Regions from separate parts of the Homo sapiens genome. Here region 2 is linked to region 1. The links come from fine-mapping of genetic effects on plasma protein levels. Region 1 holds a variant in brackets. A gene starts in the other region. All regions are shown on their forward strands.

The links. PIP is the posterior inclusion probability: the model's chance that the variant is causal. The UK Biobank Pharma Proteomics Project read protein levels with antibody pairs (Olink). The fine-mapping took linkage between variants from a reference panel, not from the people measured, so its PIPs are less certain.
Region 2: it holds the start of LCN2, and the variant in region 1 is fine-mapped to the plasma level of the LCN2 protein (UK Biobank, PIP 0.97).

What each region holds. Positions count from the first base shown.
Region 1 is chr1:153,360,437-153,373,302 of GRCh38, forward strand. S100A9 (S100 calcium binding protein A9) reads left to right here. Exons shown (of 3, transcript NM_002965.4): 3 at 208-587. The coding sequence ends at 402. Among named protein-coding and RNA genes, the nearest start is that of S100A12, 8.8 kb to the right of the region's middle. The variant G/A (reference allele first, on the strand shown) is at 5,031.
Region 2 is chr9:128,144,889-128,152,888 of GRCh38, forward strand. It overlaps LCN2 (lipocalin 2), which reads left to right and starts at 4,565. Exons shown (of 7, transcript NM_005564.5): 1 at 4,565-4,775; 2 at 5,350-5,486; 3 at 6,750-6,829; 4 at 7,018-7,137; 5 at 7,295-7,396. The coding sequence starts at 4,638. RefSeq lists an enhancer at 1,286-1,785 and a silencer at 5,915-5,964.

The DNA.
Region 1 (12,866 bases):
GTCATGGAGGGAATAAACTGGAGAGCGTTTGGTATGTGCTCAGTGTCTGCTCCATTGTGCGCACTCAGCCTATGGTCATTTTTAATTTTTAAATCCAGCCCCAGGGTGAGGCTTCCCTTGTACATTTGCCAGCTGGTCATTTACTGTGCTCCCAGTCCCCACCTCTGGCCACACCCAGCTCTCACAGCCTTCTCTCCCCACCCGCAGAAGGAGAATAAGAATGAAAAGGTCATAGAACACATCATGGAGGACCTGGACACAAATGCAGACAAGCAGCTGAGCTTCGAGGAGTTCATCATGCTGATGGCGAGGCTAACCTGGGCCTCCCACGAGAAGATGCACGAGGGTGACGAGGGCCCTGGCCACCACCATAAGCCAGGCCTCGGGGAGGGCACCCCCTAAGACCACAGTGGCCAAGATCACAGTGGCCACGGCCACGGCCACAGTCATGGTGGCCACGGCCACAGCCACTAATCAGGAGGCCAGGCCACCCTGCCTCTACCCAACCAGGGCCCCGGGGCCTGTTATGTCAAACTGTCTTGGCTGTGGGGCTAGGGGCTGGGGCCAAATAAAGTCTCTTCCTCCAAGTCAGTGCTCTGTGTGCTTCTTCCACCTCTTCTCCAACCCTGCCTTCCCAGGGCTCTGGGCATTAGACAGCCCTGTCCTTATCTGTGACTCAGCCCCCTCATTCAGTATTAACAAAATGAGAAGCAGCAAAACATGGGTCTGTGCTGGGCCCCTTGGGCTCACCTCCCTGACCATGTCCTCACCTCTGACTTCAGGCCCCACTGTTCAGATCCCAGGCTCCCTGCCCCATCTCAGACACCCTGTCCAGCCTGTCCAGCCTGACAAATGGCCCTTGTCACTGTACACTGTAGAAAGCAAAAAGGCATATCTCTACCCCTTGATATGCCTGCTACCTCACCAACCAGCCCCAAGCCTGTCTTCACCCATCACTGTCTACACAGCCCTCTCTCTCTCCTAACAGAATTCTATTCCTCTGAAAGTCTTCCAGAAATGGACCTAGATAGTGCCATGTCTGGGGAGGAATACTGGCACCCAGGCAGTGGAAACAAGGACAGATCCGGTGTGTTTACTCTCACACTTTTTCTGGATCCAAGAGAGCAATTGGATCTCTCTTAACAGACCTGCCACCCTAATCAACGGGAGTGCTCACACAAGTGGGAGTCTGAGAGCTTAGCCCTATGCCCACCCTGGTCTCAACAGAATGGCAGAGTGAAGAAATGAGCTCCAGTCCGGGCTCTGCAGCTAAAAGACTCCGTGACTACCAGGAGGAGTCTGTGCTCTGGGTCCAGAGAGCCTGGGGGTCTGAAGATTCTGATTTTAAGCTTTGAGGGCCAGCTGTCCTTTCTGGTGGGTAGCTGAGAGCTGGGCCCAGCACAAGTATCTGCTTCTCTCTGCAAAGCCTACTACCAGGCCTGGCCCTAGCTGCCTCAGGGCTACTGCTGCAGCTCCCCCTTCAAGCTGCCCCAGATCCAAGTGCTCAGTTCAGGGACTCCTCTGCCATCTTCCTGCCCTTTGGCTATAAAGTCCCTTTCCTAGGTTATAACCAGTGGGGTTTGGCCTTCCAAAAACCAGAGTCCAGATCAAGGTCCTCTGACCCCTGTCCTTTCAGCAGAAAGAAGACTCACAGAATTAGGATCTGGGGAAGCTGGGAAGACTAGCAGTCACCTACTCTCCCTTTTCATAAGTGAAGAAACCGAGGTGTAATATGGAGAAGAGACTAGTCCAAAGTCACACAAATGACAGAGTTGCTCAAAATAATGCAGTACGAAAAGTAGCTTGAATCATATCTGCCCCACTGGCTGCACCTCCCCAGCCCCTTCCCCAGTGCAGAGCAGGAAGATATAGAGCTGCCAGTGTTGGATTTCAGCCCTCCCCTCACAGCCTGGCTATGGTTGTGCCCCCAACCTGCCTGTTGCAGACTCCTGCTTTAAGGGCCTGGGGGCTCCGCTCTGGGTGCAGGGTTTTAAGGGCTCCCACTCGAGGGTATGAGGATGTTTCCAGGAACTGTCTCAGGCTGAGAGCTTAGGCAGCAGAGTCTAGAAGCCCTCCTCAGTCCCTTCTGTGCCTGACTTGGAGACCTGACAGCTGGGGACACTCATTTTCTGACAGCCCTTCTGCTCCCATGCTCACATCCAGGGAGGAGTCACTGTCTTCACTCCCTTCTGAACACAGCTTGGTAATGAGGAGAGAGAAGCATCCTGGGGATTGGAGGGCCTTAGACCAGATGCTTCCAGTAGGGTGGTAAGTGCTCCCCCTAGGCCCTCTGCCCACCACTACTTATCACAATGTGCCTAAATATGTTTATGACTCTGCCTACCCCTCCAGACTGATAACTCCAAGAGAGCAAAGTCCATCTGTTTTTTTTTTCTGATTTATTCTCAGCACCTAGAGTAGTGGCTGCTACATAGAAGGTTCTCAGCAAATATTGCCTGTATAATGGCCTAGGTTTCTCACGTGTTCTATGCTCTCTTCTCAAGGGATGATGTGGAGAAAAAAAAGCAAGAGGAGATCAAAACCTGCAAATGGAAGGCTTCTGCATTAGCATTACAGAATCTCAAACCTGAAGGTAAGGAGCAGCAAGTTGATGGAATCGGAGGGCCCCTCCACCCCCTGTTCAATCAGACCAATTTGATTTGAAGGAAGAGATTTGTCTTGAAAAAAGTGTGAAAACTATGGACTTAATCCAATCTGCCCCACCCACACTCTAGAGTGATTCTTGCCAACATCCCTGCCAAGTGACTGAACCAACCCTGCCTGAATTCCTCCAGGAAAGGAGAGTTTCCCCCTTTGGGAGTGACACTTGGAATGTCCCTCATTATACTGAGCTGAAATCCATCTCCTCATGCCCACCCAGCATTAGTCCTACTTTTCCTCCCCTTTGAGGACACAGAACAAATCTAACCCCTTATCATCCATCCTCCCATCCACATGTTTATTCCTCCACTTCTTCAAAACGCCTTCCCTAAATTACATCCAGGCTTTCTCCAGCCTCTTCACCTTTGCACCAAAAATGCTGTGCTCCATCCTGGTGTCTCTTGTAAGTCCCTTAGGATCCATCAAGCCTTGGAACAAGTGTTACTGCTTCCTCACCATCCACCCTTCTCAAGAAGATAGGGACTTCCTCCTCCAGGCCCACAGAACTCTGACAATTCCACCATTGCACTTCAAATACTGAATGGCAAATACTCATTTGCCAAGACTATGAACCCCTGAAAGCAGGGACTATAGCTGATTTTCCCCCACATTCAAGATCCCAGCATGGACCATCCACTTGTTCATCCACAAAGTGAAGATAGGATGGTTCTAGAGCAGAAATGGGTGCTTTGCTCGAATGTGGGTGTGAGGTAGGAGTGGCTCTCAGGAACTGGGGTTGGGGGTGCCAGCTGTCTGGAGACCTGGGGCTGGCAGAGAGCAGAGCAGCTGAGTGGCAGGATGACCCAGAGACCTCCTCAGGTAACAAGGATTCTTCCATTTACCTTGTCTCTAGTAACTCAGTCTGCATGTAGGCAATTGTTTCAGACCCTGGGGGAAGGTCTGACAACAAGCCACTTGCACCCTGCGGAATTTTCTTTAAACGTAGTTGAACAGAACTCATCAAGGTGACTTAACCTCTTCATTCCCATTAGCCTCTTTCATTTCAAAAAAAAAAAAAAAAAAAAAAACCTCATTCTGCTGAGTAGAGCAGAGTGGGCTTCTTTTCTCAGATAGAGAGAGCAAGCATGTCCATGTCCATGTCAAGGTTAAGATTCCCACTCCAAGTGGAAATCAGTAGCTATCTCTGTGATTAATGAGTCCTTTGGGGAAACATGACCTTTGGGGACTTTCCCAGCACCATGGTGACTAAAGAATCAGAGACAACCTGTCTTCAGATGACTATCCAACAATTCCTGCAACAATGAGTTGCCCTCCAGGCTGGTGTTAGCAGTGGAACCTGAACTGCTAGATGCCTTCCTGGGAGGAATGAGGAAGGATCAGAAGTAGTCTAAGCTGCTAAACTCTTCCCAGACACTTCACAGTGCTCTGAATGTGGTCTGGGGCCTGGGTGGTGGTGGGATGGCTCCAGAACTTGGGGGAGAAATGAATTCACTTGTCCACTCACTTGTATGTCCCTTCATTCACTCAACAGACATTAACTGCAGACTTACTATGTGTCAGGCACAGTATAATGCTGAGGGGCCTTCATGATAAATAAAGCTTGTCCATGTTGTCAAAGAGTTCTCGGGCCTGCAGGGAGACAAGACAGCTCCTCAAATTAATCTGATGTGGAAAATGAGAGGCCAGGGAGGTCCAGCTAAAAGATTTCGGTGGGATGTAGCTCGGTGGGACTTTGAGGTGGGAATGATGCCCTTCACTGGGGCCATCTCCATGGAGGGGTAAGTATCAGTGTGACATCAAGGCTGGTACCTGGAGACATCCCGGGATAAACATGAAGGTGCTTCAGGAGACCATGTATGCAAAGGCCTGGAAATGGGCAGGCGTGGGGTTTGAGGGCGAATGAGGAGCACTGGGGGCGTGGCAGGGAGAGGTAAGAGAGACAGATGAGAACAGGATAGGTACCAGGCCAAGGAACTCACACTCCATTCAGCAGAACAGGGGCAGAGCCCCGAAGGCTTCAGGGAGGGCAATGATATAATCACATTTGCATTTCATAGAAGTTTCTCTATCTGTGTTTTATGGGATGGGTTTGGGGTGGGAATGAGACCCCAGGCACATGGCCTGTGGGGAGTCTGTTGCAAGAGCCCAGGTGAGCACTTAAGAGTCCAAGCGGTGCTTCTCAGAAAAAGTAAAGCTAGAGCCTCAAACTACCCCAAGCTTCACCTCAATTAGGAGAGGTGTGACTGCAACATGATAAATAAGATCATTTCATGCTGTTTGCCAAGACCTTTCCAGGAAGGAAGATCTCAGCTTTCACCAGCCCGGTGAGCCAACCTTACACAACCCTGATGCAGCCCTGCCCTGAAGTAAGCTCCATAATCCAACCCCAATGCACTGCCCCCTCTTCC[G/A]GCAGTTGCTTAAAACATATATTTTAGAAAGCCCCGTGTCATGGATTTTGACACTCCAATTACCAAAGTGACAGCAGGACTGAAACAACTGGTTTCTCAAGTCCTATTGCCCCTTGGGGCTCTGACCTGAAACAGTTTCTCTATCCTAAGACGACAATCAGTCCCTGGATGATTAGATCACCCCTGTCTTCAGAGATCCACTCCCAGACACAGGAGACAGGGAAAGGGAGCCCCTGAGCGACAGCCAGCTGGCCTCCATCCTGAGTGTCCCACGGAATGCAGAGTCCCAACTAAACACAGAGCACCGCTATTGGTGCTGGCTCAAAACAACTACATCTAGGCTTTCCTTTTCTGCATGAGTTCTCCCACTCTTGCCCACGTACCCAAAATTGCTGCATGCAGACTGTACAGTGAGGAAGGGGTTTGTTGCCAAGACCCGAGGTGAAGAGGAAGAGGAGGGTGGCCACCAGCAGGGGCGGCAGGGGCAGCAGGATTCCAGCATGCAGCCCGCACCTTCAGCATCCCCCGCCTTGACTTGGAGTCTGATCCTCCCTCCTCTCCCCTGCCTCTCCCCCAACCTTTTCCCTCTTGATTTGCCCCCTCTCTTTCTCTCTTTACCTTTTCTACATCCTCTCCCTGAGCTTTTTCTCACTTACTGCCTTCTGCCCTCCTGTCCTCTGTGGTAAAATGCAGTTCTATGTGGCTGAGTGCTTTCAGGGAAGCAACTAGGGGTCATATCTAACCTTTGTGAAGTAACTACGGGTCATATCTAACCAGAAATGGCTCCCTCAAAACACAAGATGTCCCAGTTTCGAGTCTACTCCTCATAATGAAAGGAGACAATCACAAGGGAAAATTGTTGAAGGTCTTGGGGAATCAAGTCTGGAAAAGGTAAGCAAGGGAGCCATGACAGCTGCCTTCAAATATCACCAGGGTCCAGGGAGAGGAGCCCACCCCCGGGGGCAAGGCCTCCAAACCCGCTGTGGTGTGGCTCATTTGCTGCCAGGCCCTCCCACTCTCCCAGCACTGCCTCAAGCATCGCCCTCGCATTCTACTCCAGGTGTTCATTCCCTCTGGTAGGAAACAGCTCCATGCAAAGAAGCCAACATTCATCAGCTATTCAGTCTGCAAATACTCATTGAGTGAGAACTAAATGCAGAGCACTGTTATAGGTGCTGGGTCAACAAAACTGCGTCTAGGGGAGAGTCAGACAAGAGGCAAGTCAAGAAATAGATAGCCCAGATCATTTTAGATGGTGATGAGTTGCACAAAGAAAATAAAGGGGACATGCTAACAGGACTGCTTTGTGGGCCGGCAGCCAGGCAAGGAAGCAACACTGGAAATGAGGCCTGGATGACAAGAAGCCATCTCAACGAAGATTTCACCCCAAACACATTGGAGAGCCTTTGGAGGGTTTTAATCAGGCAGGTGATGTGATATGATGTATCTGGAGGAGAATATTCGGCAGCTGTGTGGAGGGTAGCCTGGAGAACCCCAGAGTAGAAGCATGAGGACCAGTTAGGAGGCTGATGAGCCTGGTCTTATGTCAAATAGTGTGCTAGATTCCCTGCCTTCACAGAGCCCTCAGTCCAGTGGGGGCACAATTACCAGATATTTTCTCTATAATACAATGTTGTGGGCAAAAGACAAGCAAAGGCAGATGATAAGCACAAGATGCCCAGAGAGTACAGAAGGCACTTTTTGCCGTCTTATTGGCTGTGGTGTGGGGGAGGGGGTAGAGGGGAGCCGGGGGGCAGGGGTAGAGGGAAGGAGAGAGAAGGAAAGCTTGCTTGGACTAATGCCCAAGCTGAGTTTTCAGAGGGCAAGAATTGCACTTCCATGTGCCCAGTGCTGTGTTAGGCAATAAAAGAAATCAGAGAAACATAGGAAGTAAGGGCTCTTGCCCTCCAGATTTTTAGTTTGCTTTATCTTAAAACTTGAAAGGCTTCTTGTGTTGGCCAAGTCAAAATGATGAGACCTAGCCATTCTCACATCAGGGGCTTCTGATAGTCATTTTGTTGAGCCCAGATCCTTCTCCTGAGCTCCAAGAGCCTGATGCACAGGCTGGCATGGCTTGGCTTGTGGTGTACTGGAAGCCTGCCTGAAATATCCTCCTGAGGGCAAAGTATTGCACATATAGCACCCAAAAGAGTGTTATTGGTGTCCTTTATCACTCAGTAATGCCTTTGCCCAGACAGCTTTGTCAGGCTCATCATTCCAGCAGCAGCCAGTGAGCAGAAGAGGGAGGTCAGCCCCAAATTGGAAGGGGCCTAAAGTCTACTCTTGATGGAAATACATGAGGAAGATATGAACAGGTGAGCTCCCTGGAGGATGTGACGGTTGAGTCAGGCCATGGTGTATAAGCAGGTGTTCTAGAGCCAGAGAAGGGCCCAGGTAGCCTAGTGTCTGCAACAGAGCAGACACAAAAAAATGTTTGTGAATGAAGGGATGAAAAGGCACTTCAGACAAAGAGAACAAGAGGACAGCAGGAGCAAAACCCAAGAAGTTTCAAAGCCGTGGAGAAACTAGAGACTGTTCTAGAGTGGCTGGAGAATAGGGCCTCTGGGGGTGGACAGATGGTGACAGTGAGACAGGGCCTCCAGAAGCAACAGGGCCAATCCCTGGGCTCTGTGGATCTAACAGTGCTTGTGTTCATTTGCTTGTTCCACGACACCAGCCACAGTCACAGGGTCTAGTCTCTGTGTATTCATGAAGGGACTGGAGATCACTTGTGCAAACAGCACACTATATACATGAAAAAACTGAGGCTCAGAGAAGGGAAGCCATTCGCCCAAACTCACAGAGCCAAGCAGTTGAGCTGGGAGTCTAACCAAGCTCATTTGATTCCAAGTCAAGGGCCCTTGTCATTGTCCTTAGGTGCCGCTGACTGATGGATTTTGACCAAGGTTAGCAGCCCTTAAAATTTTTCTAGCCATGATTTAAGTTCAATTTGTGGTTCAGTGGGCTATTTGGAAACAAAATTACAGCTGGTGAATGTTTTCACAATAGCAAATGTGCTGGACTTTTGCTCTCATCGGTTAGTTGTTGGTTTTTTTGTTGTTTTTTTTTTTAACAGATTCTAATACTACTATATATATCAGAAGTGGTCCCAAATCAAGGTAAGTGCATCAAGGGAGTGGCCTAGTTTGCAGAACAGCTTGGTCTAGTTCAAAGGCCTTTAGAGGAAGATATTGCATAACTTCCCTTGGTTCCTTATCTTACACTGGTCAACTTTAACTATCCAAGCCACCCCTAAATATAACCTCAGTCTGCTTTGGTTTAAAATAATCTATACCTATTGTGCTGTGGCAGAGGGTGGGTCAGCTACAATCGTTACCTCCTGTCTAAATTATTATCTTACTGTTATTGCTAATGTTTGTTGAGTGCTTACTCTGCATCAGATACTGTGCCAAGTGCTTTCCATGTGCTATGAGATGACCTAATCTTGGCCAGTCGCATGGCTTACGCTTGTAATCCCAGCACTTTGGGAGGCCGAGGCAGGCAGATCACGAGGTCAGGAGATCGAGACCATCCTGGCTAACGCGGTGAAACCCCGTCTCTACTAAAAATACAAAAAAATTAGCCTGGTGTGGTGGCGGGCACCTGTAAACCCATCTACTCGGGAGGCTGAGACAGGAGAATGGCGTGAATCCGGGAGGCGGAGCTTGCAGTGAGCCAAGATCGCGCCACTGCACTCCAGCCTGGGAGACAGAGCAAGACTCCATCTCAAAAAATAAAAAAATAAAAAAAGGAAAAAAAGGAGATGACCTAATCCTCTCACCAACTCTGGGAGAGGGGTGCTGTGGTTATCCCCATGCTACTGATGGGGAAATTGAGGTTTAAAGATTCTAAGTAACTTGTTCAAGGTCTCACAGTTAGTAAGTGGCAATGCTAGGATTTGAATACAGAAGCATAACTTCTAGCCTCACACTCTCGACTGCTACTCTTTAGCACCAAGGGACATCCTCCTTCCTACCCTCTCACTAAGTGATGTTCTCCTTCTAGACCCTGCACCAAGTTCCCCTCTATCCAACTGAGGTCTCTCAGAGCACTAACACTGGGTGACACCTGAGTATTCACCTAGTCTAAAACTTTCCAAAATAGATGTTTAAAATTCCTTTGAATTCTTCAAAAATAAAGAAAACACAGACCCAGAGAGGCAAAGTGATTTGGCCAAGGTCATGCAGTGAGGGAAGGCTTTCCCCAAATGCTCTCACATTCTCATTCACATTTGGTGATAGAAGCCTTCCAGGCTTGGGCCATTCCAGGACTCCCTTCCCTGGGTCACACATTCCTTCCTTTTCTGCCAATCCCACTTCACCCCCATCTTCAGGCTCTCCCCTCAACCCCATCTACAGGCTTCTACTTTCTCGCACACTTTCCACACAACTGCAATTGTTTCCTTTGATGGGGGTGGTCAGCAAAGCTTCACCCCAAGACCATGTGCCCAGGACTCATCATTTGTCACTTGTCCTGAATCCCAGCTTCCCATACACTGTCTCCACATGGCTTCACAGTAAATAAGCCGAAAGTCAAACCCACTCTCCTGCAGTAAAAAGCCCCCTTTCCCACTTTTCCTCACATCTGTCTTGCCTGACCTCCAGCAGGGTATCTAACCTTTCTAAAATTCTTCAATTTTGCCACCTGGCCTGCCCCTGCTGCTGAAGAAGATCCAGAGGTGGAACAGGAATTAAAAGAAATTAAAGAATGTGTAAGCAGAAACTCAGTTGTATGTAAGAAAACCCAATTCCCCCTGAGAAGGAGAAAGAGCTGGAGTCCTTTAAAAATTAACTGCCTGTTTTTCTGTAGCTAGTGAGCCTTATCTTTCCTCCTTTCCCAGGCATTATGAAGACCTGTTTCTCTAGCTATGCAGCTGCAAGGTCACTAGACAAATAAACTCAAGTCATAAAACGTGTTTTTCCTTGAAAAGTAAGAAATGATGTAACGCATGTCTCAATTAATTGAAATCCAGTGTATTACAGTTCTAGTACATCTCACACATATGACCATGTTTCAAGTCCTCAGTAGTCATGTATAGATCGTGGCAACCATATTGGACCCTGAAGCCCTAGATCATTTCAGAAATGGAATGGGGCTGGACTAGGGTGGTGATAATGGTGGTGACAAGGGGTGGTCAGATTATCAATACATTTTGAAGGTGGAAATGACTTTCCAGTGACTTCTGCTGATTTCATAGTTCAGGGCTCAGTCCTTTGAATGTTAATCCAACTGGACCGGTTCACCTAAATAATTAATAAATATCCTCCTCAACCCCATTGGTCTCTCTTATTTTTTAAAATATCCCGCTACAGAGGGAGCAGCCACGGGAGGGTCTACCAGAGCCCAAGGCTCTGCCCCTGCTGCCTCTTCTGTGTGTATCTTGATGTTCCCACTAAACAGGGACTGGGGCTGACTTCTGATTTCATGCTCCCCATCAGTGCCAGACCTAACTTTAGTGGTTGGTTGGAGGAGTCAGGGGTTGGAGGACAGGGAGGTTTCCAGTGACTTCCGCTGATCAGATTGAATTGCACTTTTCACCAGGGCCCAACAGCTGTCCCTGAGGCCATGCTTCTTCATATTTTCCCTGGGGCCAGTTATAGAGAGTCAAGCCAACAGACTTATCAATTTCCACACATTTATTCATTTAAGAAATGTTTATCAAACATTGTCCTAGTGTCCTCATGCTACTATAACAAAATATAGAATGGATAATTTATAAACAACACAAATTTATTTCCCACAGTTCTGGAGGCTGAGAAGTCCAAGATCAAGGTGCTGGCAGGTTCAGGTGCCTGGTGAGGGCTGCTCTCTGCTTCCAAAATGGCGCCTTGTTGCTGCTTCCTCCAGAGAGGAGGAGCACTGTGTCCTCACATGGTGGAAGGTTTAAAAGGGGAAAACTTGCCTCCTCAAGCCCTTTCATAATGCATCAACCCATTCAAAAGGGTGGAGGCATCATGGCCTAATCACCTCCTAAACCCCAACCTCTTAATACTCACATTGGGGATTAAGTTTCAACATGAATCTCAACAGGAACACAAATATTCAACTCATAGCAAACAACCACCTCTTTCCAGGCACTGTGCTTGTGCTAGTGATTCACAGTGATTCAGCACCTGCTCTTTAACAACCTAGTCCATCAGAGAAGATGAATATTAAACAAATAATCATGGCCATGGATCCAGAATCACAAAAGAAGACAAGAGCACCAAAGGAGAGCAGCATGGTCCTACGGTACTGTTAAACAAAGAACCTGGCCTGGACTAGTGTGGAGAGTCTAGTCAGGGAAGTCTCCCCTGACCCTATGTTGGACAGGGCATAATACTCTTCTCCCTGGTCACTTGCTCCTTGTTCTTCCCAACTCCTTTCCATCCCTTTCCTTCTTTAAGAAAACTAAAGAGAGTGTTTCTCACTATCCCATGCCCACAGACATGCAAATTCTATATCATTTCCCCCCTTTCAAAGTTCTGCCCCAAATTTTATGACCATGTGTCCACTCTTTCAGGTAGCCTAACTGGCCCCAGTGCACCCCCAAAGCTGGGTCACTCTCTATTCTCCCACAACATCGTATACTTACTTCTGCCAAAACATATATGACATGGCATAGGGATTCCTCCCGATTCAGGCCTTCCGCAATCAGAGATGAACATTTAAGCCAAGGACTTCTTCTTTCATCTCTGTATCCCTAGCATCCAGACCAGTGTCTTAGGGGAAAACTTTTGGAGTAATCCTTGATTTTTCAATTTCCACCTTCAAAATGTATTGATAATCTGACCACCCCTTGTCACCACCATTACCACCACCCTAGTCCAGCCTCATTCCATCTCTGAAACGATCTAGGGCTTCGGGGTCCAGTATGGTTGCCATGATCTATACATGACTACTGAGCACTTGAAACATGGTCATATGTGAATCTTTGGATTTCAAAGTCTTAAAATGAAAGAAAAGAATGTAAACTATCTCAACAATAATTTTATATAGCTGAAGTAATAATATTTTAGATCTATTAGGTTAACCAAATGTTATTAAAATTAATTCCCCTTTATTTTTACTTTTTTAAATATGGTTTCTAGTAAAGTTTAAGTTATACATATTATATTTCTCTTAGACAGGATTGCCCTGGGGAATCTCTTCTTAGCTGATCTCTTAGCTTCCATGCTTGCCTGTGCTCTATAATCTGTTCTCCACGAAAGCAGCCAAAGTAATCCTTCAAAGCATAAATAGAATCATTTCGCTCCCCTGGTCAAAACCCCCCAGTGTCTCCTTAGCACATTTAGAATAAAGTCTAAAGTCCTCCCCATGGTCTATAAGCTGCTGTTATCTGCTTCCTGATACCTACAGGCTCATATTCCCCACCACTCCCCATTTCAGTCACTGTACTCCAGGTATACTGGCTTCTGTGCTACTCTTTGAGCAGGTCAGGTATGTGCCCACCAAGAGCCTTGGCTACTCACTGCCAGGAACTCTTGGCCTCTAGATAGCTGCAAGTCACTCTTCTTCATTTCTTTCAGATTTCTGCTCAAATGTATACCCTGACCACCCCATCGAAACCAACATCACCTTCCTTCCCTTTCCACCCCAACTCTACTTCTCTACTTTAGTTTTCTTCATATAACTTATCATTAACTACTATTGTATCAATATGATCACACCATGTCATATCATATTATATTATATCATATATACACATATATATGTATATATCATATATATACATATATATATGTTTAAAGACATATATATATGTGTGTGTATATATATATGTGTTTAAAGACAGGATCTTTCTATGTTGCCCAGGCTGGAATGCAATAGCTATTCACAAGTGTAATCATAGCACAC
Region 2 (8,000 bases), not on the chromosome of region 1:
AGGACCTGGAGAGCAGGGAGCACGGGAGCATGTGGGGTAACGCAGGGGTGGCCGCAGTGGAGATGCCCCTTTCCTGGGGTGCTGGGGGCTGCAGTCCGGGCAGGAGGGGTGCAGAGCTGGGAGGAGCATTGGTTTTGAGCAGCACCAGGACCATGTGGGACAGAGGCCTATGACAGAGGGACTGCGGCCCAGCTCCATGGGAGCCTGGCATCCACCACTGCCTGCCGCTGCCTGTGTCCACCCTAGACCCTGCTCAGAGCCTTGACGTCCACTCCGCTGCCACCTATGATCATTGTGGGCCCTCTTGCCCGCATAGGAGTCCAGGCTCTGGAGTAAAAGGCAGAGCACCCATCTAAGCAGCATGCCTGGGCCAGGCACCAAGGGATGGAACCAGCAAGGGCCCTGGGCCTAGACCTCAAGCAGCAGGGCCCGCTTCCCCCTGTCTGGTGGACCCCAGGGGTTCACCAGAGGGAGGAATCCAGTGGGTGTACTTGGGGGAGGGTTGGGAGGGGATTTTCACAGGCGGGCAGGGTCCCTGTCAGGTAGAAGGGGCAGGAGGACCTCAAGGCCCCTTGGCGAGCCTTGGCATGAGAGAGGATGGGGGTTGGAAAACTGTTTCTGGAAACAGGAGACTCAGCCCAAGACCCTGGCAGGGCAAGCTCCTCACACTAAACAGCCCCTCCCGTTCCTGGGTGTTTGAGAGTCGGGTGCCCAGCCCGGACCTGCCGTGACCAAGGAGAGCTGATCTGCAGACACCAAGACTTCCTGCATCTGTGACTGGGCCTCCTGGGGGCATCTTGACTGTAGACTCCTTCCAGGTGTGGTACCTGGCTCCTAGAAGCCTAGCCAGTCACCTCCTGCCCAGCCTTCAAACACGTCAGAGGGTTAACCATTCATGGCCACGCTGAACACTACTCACAAGATCCGGAAACCAGAATGGGGAGTCAGACTGGATTCCTGAGATGTAAGGACCGCCAGGAAGCATCTTGCTGCCTTCATGCATGGATGAGACCTGGGCCTCTCCATGGGAGGACAGGCTGCTGCAGTCTCCAGGGAGCACCCACTCTTGGGCGTGGAGAGTGGGGACAGCTGCCTGCCAGAGACTGCGAGGGGAGGTCGGGAGCAGCCGGAGTACTTCTGGTCTCTGGCCACGGAAAACCCAGGCAGGGACCTGTCTTTAAGCTCCTGCTGTTGCTAAGCCGACCTGCACAGCAGGACTTGGGAGCCCAGCCCAGCTCCTCTCAGGAGGGGCTTGGCCCCATTGCTTCTGTGTGGCTCGTTGAGGGCTCACTAGAGGCACCTGCAGCTCCTTGAGAGAAAGCAGGCCCAGTCCAGGGGCCACGGTGGAAACCATAGGAGGGGCCGAGGGGAGGCAGGTGGGTGCCTGTCATGCCATGCACAGTGCCACACGTGTCGTGGAGATTGTCCCAAGAGCCCCGGGGTCCAGGGACTCCCCCAAGCGCTGAGCAGTGTGAACACTTGTGTACCCTCATTGGCTAGGGCCCAATGAATGGGGCCCAGTGGAAAGGGGGTGGGTGAGGAATGGGGCCCCAGTGTCCTGTTGACCCTGGAGCCCTTGGAGTCGGTCAAGTCTGAATGGGAGGTCTACACCACAGTCCTTACCCAACCTTCCTAGTGCTGAGTCCTGAAGCTTGTGTGGTGGGTCTATGTAGAGCTGACCCCCTCCCTGCAGCCCTGCTAGACTCTGAAGAGAGCCAAGGCCAGTGGGTAGGAGACAGGTCTGGAGCTGGTGCAGAGAGAGGAATGAGCCCTGCATGGGTTTGATCAGAAACTCAGCCTTGTGTAGGGACACCCTGGGGCCCGGTGCTGTCCATGCATGACCTCACAGAAGCGCAGAGCTGCCCTCTCTACAGAGGAGCGCCTGATTTGTGTGGGAGCTAGGCAGAGATCTGCATGCATGCGGAGGAGCCAGGCTTCAAGCCAGCCTGGGGGACCCCCAAGCGGGACTATCTCCCCTTCTGCACCTGGCTCTGGTGTCTTCCCACTGTGGACCCAGTGCCCTGCTCACCCACCACATTCATACCCTGGAGTCCTGGGTCCTCAGAGATCCATGACACTGCCTCACCCCCAACTTCAAATTCTCTGGGGCTCCACCCGCTGGTCTCAGCTACGTGAAGCAGTCACCGTAGACTAGAGGGTACTTTTTAGATTTAGGTCACTCTATCATCCAGGCTGGAGTGCAGTGGCACAATCATAGCTCACTGCAGCCTCGGCTTCCTGGGCCCAAGTGATCCTCCCACCTCAGCCTCCCCGAGGATACGTGGTTTTTTTTTTCTTTTTTCAGACAGGGTCTCACTCTGTCTCCCAGGCTGGAGTGCAGTGGTGCGATCTTGGCTCACTGCAGCCTCCGCCTCCCGGGTTCAAGCCATTCTCCTGCCTCAGCCTCCTGAGTAGTTGGGATCATAGGCATGCATCACCCCACCTGGCTAATTTTTGTATTTTTAGTAGAGACGGGGTTTTGCCATATTGGCCAGGCTAGTCCCTGAGGATACATTTTTTTTTTCCCCGAGATGGAGTCTCCCTCTGTCGCCCAGGCTGGAGTGCAATGGCGCAACCTTGGCTCACTGCAACCTCCGCCTCCCAGGTTCAAGCAATTCTTCTGCCTCAGCTTCCCGAGTAGTTGGGATTACAGGCATGCGCCACCATGCCCAACTAATCTTTGTATTTTTACTAGAGACAGGGTTTCACCATGTTGGTCAGGCTGGTCTTGAACACCTGACCTCAGGTTATCCACCCGCCTCAGTCTCCCAAAGTGCTGGAGTTACAGGCGAGAGCCACTGCGCCCAGCCGAGGATACCTTTTTTTTTTTTTTTTTAAGACAGAATATCGCTCTGTTCCAGGCTAAAGTGCAAAGGCGTGATCTCGGCTCACTGCAACCTCCGCCTCCCAGGTTCAAGCTGTTCTTCTGCCTCAGCCTCCCGAGTAGCTGGGATTACAGGCGCCTGCCACCATGCCCTGCTAATTTTTGTATTTTTAGTAGAGATGGGGTTTCACCGTGTTGGCCAGACTGGTCTCGAACTCCTGACCTCGTGATCCACCCGCCTCAGCCTCCCAAATGCTGGGATTACAGATGTGAGCCACCGCACCCGGCCTGGCAGAGGATACTTTTTAAGGTCAAAGACAGTAGCAGAGGTGGAGTTCCTGGGAACAGGGTCATGAGGGGAAGAGGGGGTTCGGAGGGAGCGAGTAGCCACTGGCTACCTCTAGAAAGGGAAGGCTTTGGTGCAACATCGTTCCCCTGCAGTTTTACTCATCTTTGCTTCCTGCCCTTTCATCATCCAATCGGGCAGGCAGGACAGGGCCTGAGGGGGCAGGGATCCAGTGGGTGCCTCTCTAGACTAACCCCAGCTCAGGACTCCCAGAGCCCCTTCCCTGAGGCCCTGCTGCCCCCAAGCCCAGATTGGGGATCCCAAGCAGCACGTAGGCAGAGCCAGTGAGGTCCCCGTTAGTCCCATTGAAAGCTCTAAAACCAGCGAACCCTCAGTCCAGCCTCAGGTCAGGCATCCAGGACGGCCTCAGCCCTCATGGGTGAGCCATCTCTGCGGACACTGCACAGGGCCTACGATCCATCGCTGCCTCCCGAGGATGCCAGCCAGGCCCCCGTTGAGATAACTGCTTCCCTGCTGGACAAGGCTGGGACCAGCCATCTCGGTGACAGTTCCAGAACCCCTGGCCTGGGCTGCTGGGTTCAATGGAAAAAGGCTGTGACTAGAGTCAGGGGGATGGTCTCAGTGACCTCAAGGATAAGGCCAGATCCTTGCACTGTCAGTGACCCAAAGCAACAGGTGTCCAGAGCAGCAGTGTGGCGCCTTCACGCCCCCACACATCAGCCCAACTCACCCAGGACAGGGACTGTAGCCTCAGCACTCAACCCATGTGCCCTGTGTGGGGTCTCTTCCCACTGCACTCACAGGAGAGGAAGGGTCCCTCAGGGGTCCACTGGGGTCCCCTCCTGCAAATGGGGCAAGGAGAGGGGCAAGGGGCTGTCTCAAGGCCCCTGGAGCACATGCAGGTCCTGGACTGGGGCTCCTGGGAGGGCCATGATTCTGGGCTCCATGAGTTCAGAGCAGACGCCTTGTTTTTCCTTGTCCACTGTCAGCCACCCCACCCTTCCCTGACCCTTAAAAGAACCAGGAAACAGCACATGATCTGTTGGAAGGAGGCATTCATTCTTTCCTTTCTGTGGGTGTGGGGAGGGGACCACAGGGCACATACCCCACCCTGGGATCCAGCTGAGCAGGGGGGTCAGAGATGACAGCTCTTCCGGCTCACAGGCCACCGGCCCACATACAGGGCAATCAGAAGAAAGAAACAGCACAAGGAAGGCACAGAGGGAGTCGTTGTCCCTGCCAGAGGTGCAGCACTCCGGGAATGTCCCTCACTCTCCCCGTCCCTCTGTCTTGCCCAATCCTGACCAGGTGCAGAAATCTTGCCAAGTGTTTCCGCAGGAGTTGCTGGCAATTGCCTCACATTCCTGGCCTTGGCAAAGAATGAATCAACCCACCCTAGATCCCATAAATAGGGCCACCCAGGTGAGCCTCTCACTCGCCACCTCCTCTTCCACCCCTGCCAGGCCCAGCAGCCACCACAGCGCCTGCTTCCTCGGCCCTGAAATCATGCCCCTAGGTCTCCTGTGGCTGGGCCTAGCCCTGTTGGGGGCTCTGCATGCCCAGGCCCAGGACTCCACCTCAGACCTGATCCCAGCCCCACCTCTGAGCAAGGTCCCTCTGCAGCAGAACTTCCAGGACAACCAAGTAAGGGGCCAAGAGGGGCACCTGCAGGCAGGGCCTGGGGAAGAGTGGGAGCAGAGGGGAGGAGAGGTGAAGAGACTCAGGAAGAGCGTTGGGCAGGACTCTAGGAGTCCAGGGTCCAGGTTTCAGCTCACTCTGTGCCACCAGGGTCCCCTGGTGGAAACCATGCCCCTTCCCCCCATCCCCACCCCCTCTCAGCCTGAACAGACTCCCCCAGGTCCACATCCCCTCTCCCATAACCCCCATTGTCCAAAGAAGGTGGGAGCACTTTTAGTCCCCCTGCACAGATGAGGAAACTGAGGCTCAGGAAGGCCCACCAGCCACATGCCTCCTCCAGTGAGGAGGTCACCCTCCTCCCTGCCAGACTCAGAACCGCCTCTTCCCCCAGGACTCCCTTCTGGACTGATGGCCTCCTGCTCCTGCCCCTTCACCAGTGCAGGCCCAGCCTGGGCCCTGCTGCCCAGCTAGAGGGGCTCATGGTTCCAAGCTGGGCGGCCCAGAGGTGCCACAGGGACAGAGCTGGAGGGGTGGCTCCTAGGGCCATTCCTGGGTTGTGCCTCTTATCAGTCCCTTGCAGTTCCAGGGGAAGTGGTATGTGGTAGGCCTGGCAGGGAATGCAATTCTCAGAGAAGACAAAGACCCGCAAAAGATGTATGCCACCATCTATGAGCTGAAAGAAGACAAGAGCTACAATGTCACCTCCGTCCTGTTTAGGTGAGGGCCGACATCTCCTGGGGGTGTGAGAGTCAGACTGACGTCACAGGCAAGGGATGGCCAAAGCTGAGGGATCCTGTCGTTCACCTCGCTGTTCTGCCCGGAATTCATCTGTGTTCATCCTTCCTCTGTTCCTTAGAGCAACGTTTATAGCACATTTCCATGCAGACACACAGACAGTGGTGGGGATGGACATGCACAGTCGTTAGAAAACAAGACGGAGAGAGGAGGGGTGCCTGGGAGCGGGAGGAGGGGACACTGGATCCAGCCTGGAACCCCACCCAGTGCCTTCATGGAAGGCTTCCAGGGAGGTGGCCTTAAAAGAGCCAACCTGCTTCAAAAGGAAATGTGGGGTGTTCCCGGCAGGGGCTGGAGTCAGAGAGAGCCCCCCCTTCAGGAAGGAGCAAGCCATCGCAGGGTCACCCTGAGCAGAGCTGCTGAGCAGCCTGGAGGGGCAGGTGGCCACGCTAGCACCTAGCACGGTCCTCAGGCCCCGCCCCAGCGGATCTGCTGCGGAGTGGCTTAGAGCAGGGCTCTTGGGCCGCAGGGTGGGGAGACTTGGTGGGGTGCAGCCTAGGGGGTCGGGAGACCAGCGAAAGTGAAGCGGGGCCGTCACAGGTGTGAGAGAACAGGCGCAGGGTGAAGAGGCAGGGAGCCAGGGATCAGCCGCCCCCAGTGGGTTTCTGACTCTGGCAGCTGAGTGGATTGGGATTGGGGCATTTGTGGAGCAAGGAGCAGAATACAGACAGGTTGGGGAGCTCAGCCCTGGGGTGCCAGGGGATGGGAAGTGGGAGGACTCAAGGATGGGGTCAGGTTTGACCCGAGAGCTAGGGGAACGGCTGGCATGGAGCAGACTGGAAGTACCGAGGTGGATCCCCGGGAGAGGGTATAGGAAGGGAAGCAGCAAGCTGAGTGCAGGGGAGAAATGCAGGGTTTCTGTGTGTTGGGTGGCGGGGGGGGTGAAAGCCACCCAGGGAGGCAGCCAAAGGAAAGAAGGACATCGGGTGCTGGAGGGTCTGAGTGGGGTCCAGGGGCCCCAGGCAGGCCAGGAGGGACAGCCTGGTGTCAGCTCAGGGAGAAGGCCCAGGCCCATCTCGGCTGGGTGGGGTAGGGCCCCTCCAGGTAGTGGGGGATGAGCTGTCACGGGTTGGGCCGGACTGAGAGCAACAGAACCCTGCTGCTGCCCTGGCCCCACCTTGTCCAGCACAGGAGGCCCAAGCCTGGGTTGTCTCCCCTCTCACCCACCCATCTCTCCCTCCCAAGGAAAAAGAAGTGTGACTACTGGATCAGGACTTTTGTTCCAGGTTGCCAGCCCGGCGAGTTCACGCTGGGCAACATTAAGAGTGAGTCTTGAGTGAGGTGGGGCACTGAGTTGGGGCTCCGGGGAGCTGGGTAGGGGCACAGACCTTCCTGCCCCTCCACACAGATGTGTTGTATGGGGAGAAGCCCACGTTGATGGGCTGGGGAGGGAGGGGACAGCTCCCTCCTCCCATCCAGGGCAGGGCTGACCCCTCACCGTCCACGCCTGCAGGTTACCCTGGATTAACGAGTTACCTCGTCCGAGTGGTGAGCACCAACTACAACCAGCATGCTATGGTGTTCTTCAAGAAAGTTTCTCAAAACAGGGAGTACTTCAAGATCACCCTCTACGGTGGGTCCTCTCCCATCCCCTCGGGGACTGGCTCCTGATCACACTTAGTGGGAGGGGAGGCCGGTCCCCCATGAGGAAGGGATCTGAGGCCTCATCTACTCATTCAACGATATTTATGTGGTGTCTGCCAGCCACTCACTGGCCATCTTGGTCACAGGGAGAACCAAGGAGCTGACTTCGGAACTAAAGGAGAACTTCATCCGCTTCTCCAAATCTCTGGGCCTCCCTGAAAACCACATCGTCTTCCCTGTCCCAATCGGTAATGGCCAGTCTGGATGAGGGGACGGGGACATGGGGACTGTTCAGGCAGGATGCTTCCCTACCAGGGATCAGGGAGAGGAGGGACTCCGTCCTCAGCTTCAGTCACTGGAGCAGTGGATGGTCCAGGAGCTCCTTGGAAGCCACTCTGGGCCCAGGAAGACTGTGCCCCACCCCAGGGTCTATGGGACTCCCAGGGACCCAGGCCGCAAGTGCTCTTTCCTGGCAGTTTAGCCCGGGTCTGCCCAGACAAGGATTTCAGGCCCAGGCCTGAGTATCCATTTCTCAGTCTCACTGGCCTGACACCTCTGGCCACCCTCCCAGGCCCCCTTGTTCTGGGCCATCTCCCCCGACCCTCCCAGGCCTCGTCACCCTGGGTTTTGCTGTCCTGGCTGTCCTCTCTCCCCTGGGGACTTGCTCACCACTGACTTGGGAGCTGTCCTTGACTCCAGGGAGCCTGGCTTGGGCAGGAGGCTCCAGCCAGGCCATTCAGAGAGCCACTGGCCTCCCCCAGGCTGAGAGACTGCCTGGACTGGTAAACAGGCAGGAGACCTGGGTGCCCGAGGAGCCTGGGAGCTGGGCCTCACTCAGGGCAGCCCCTCCCC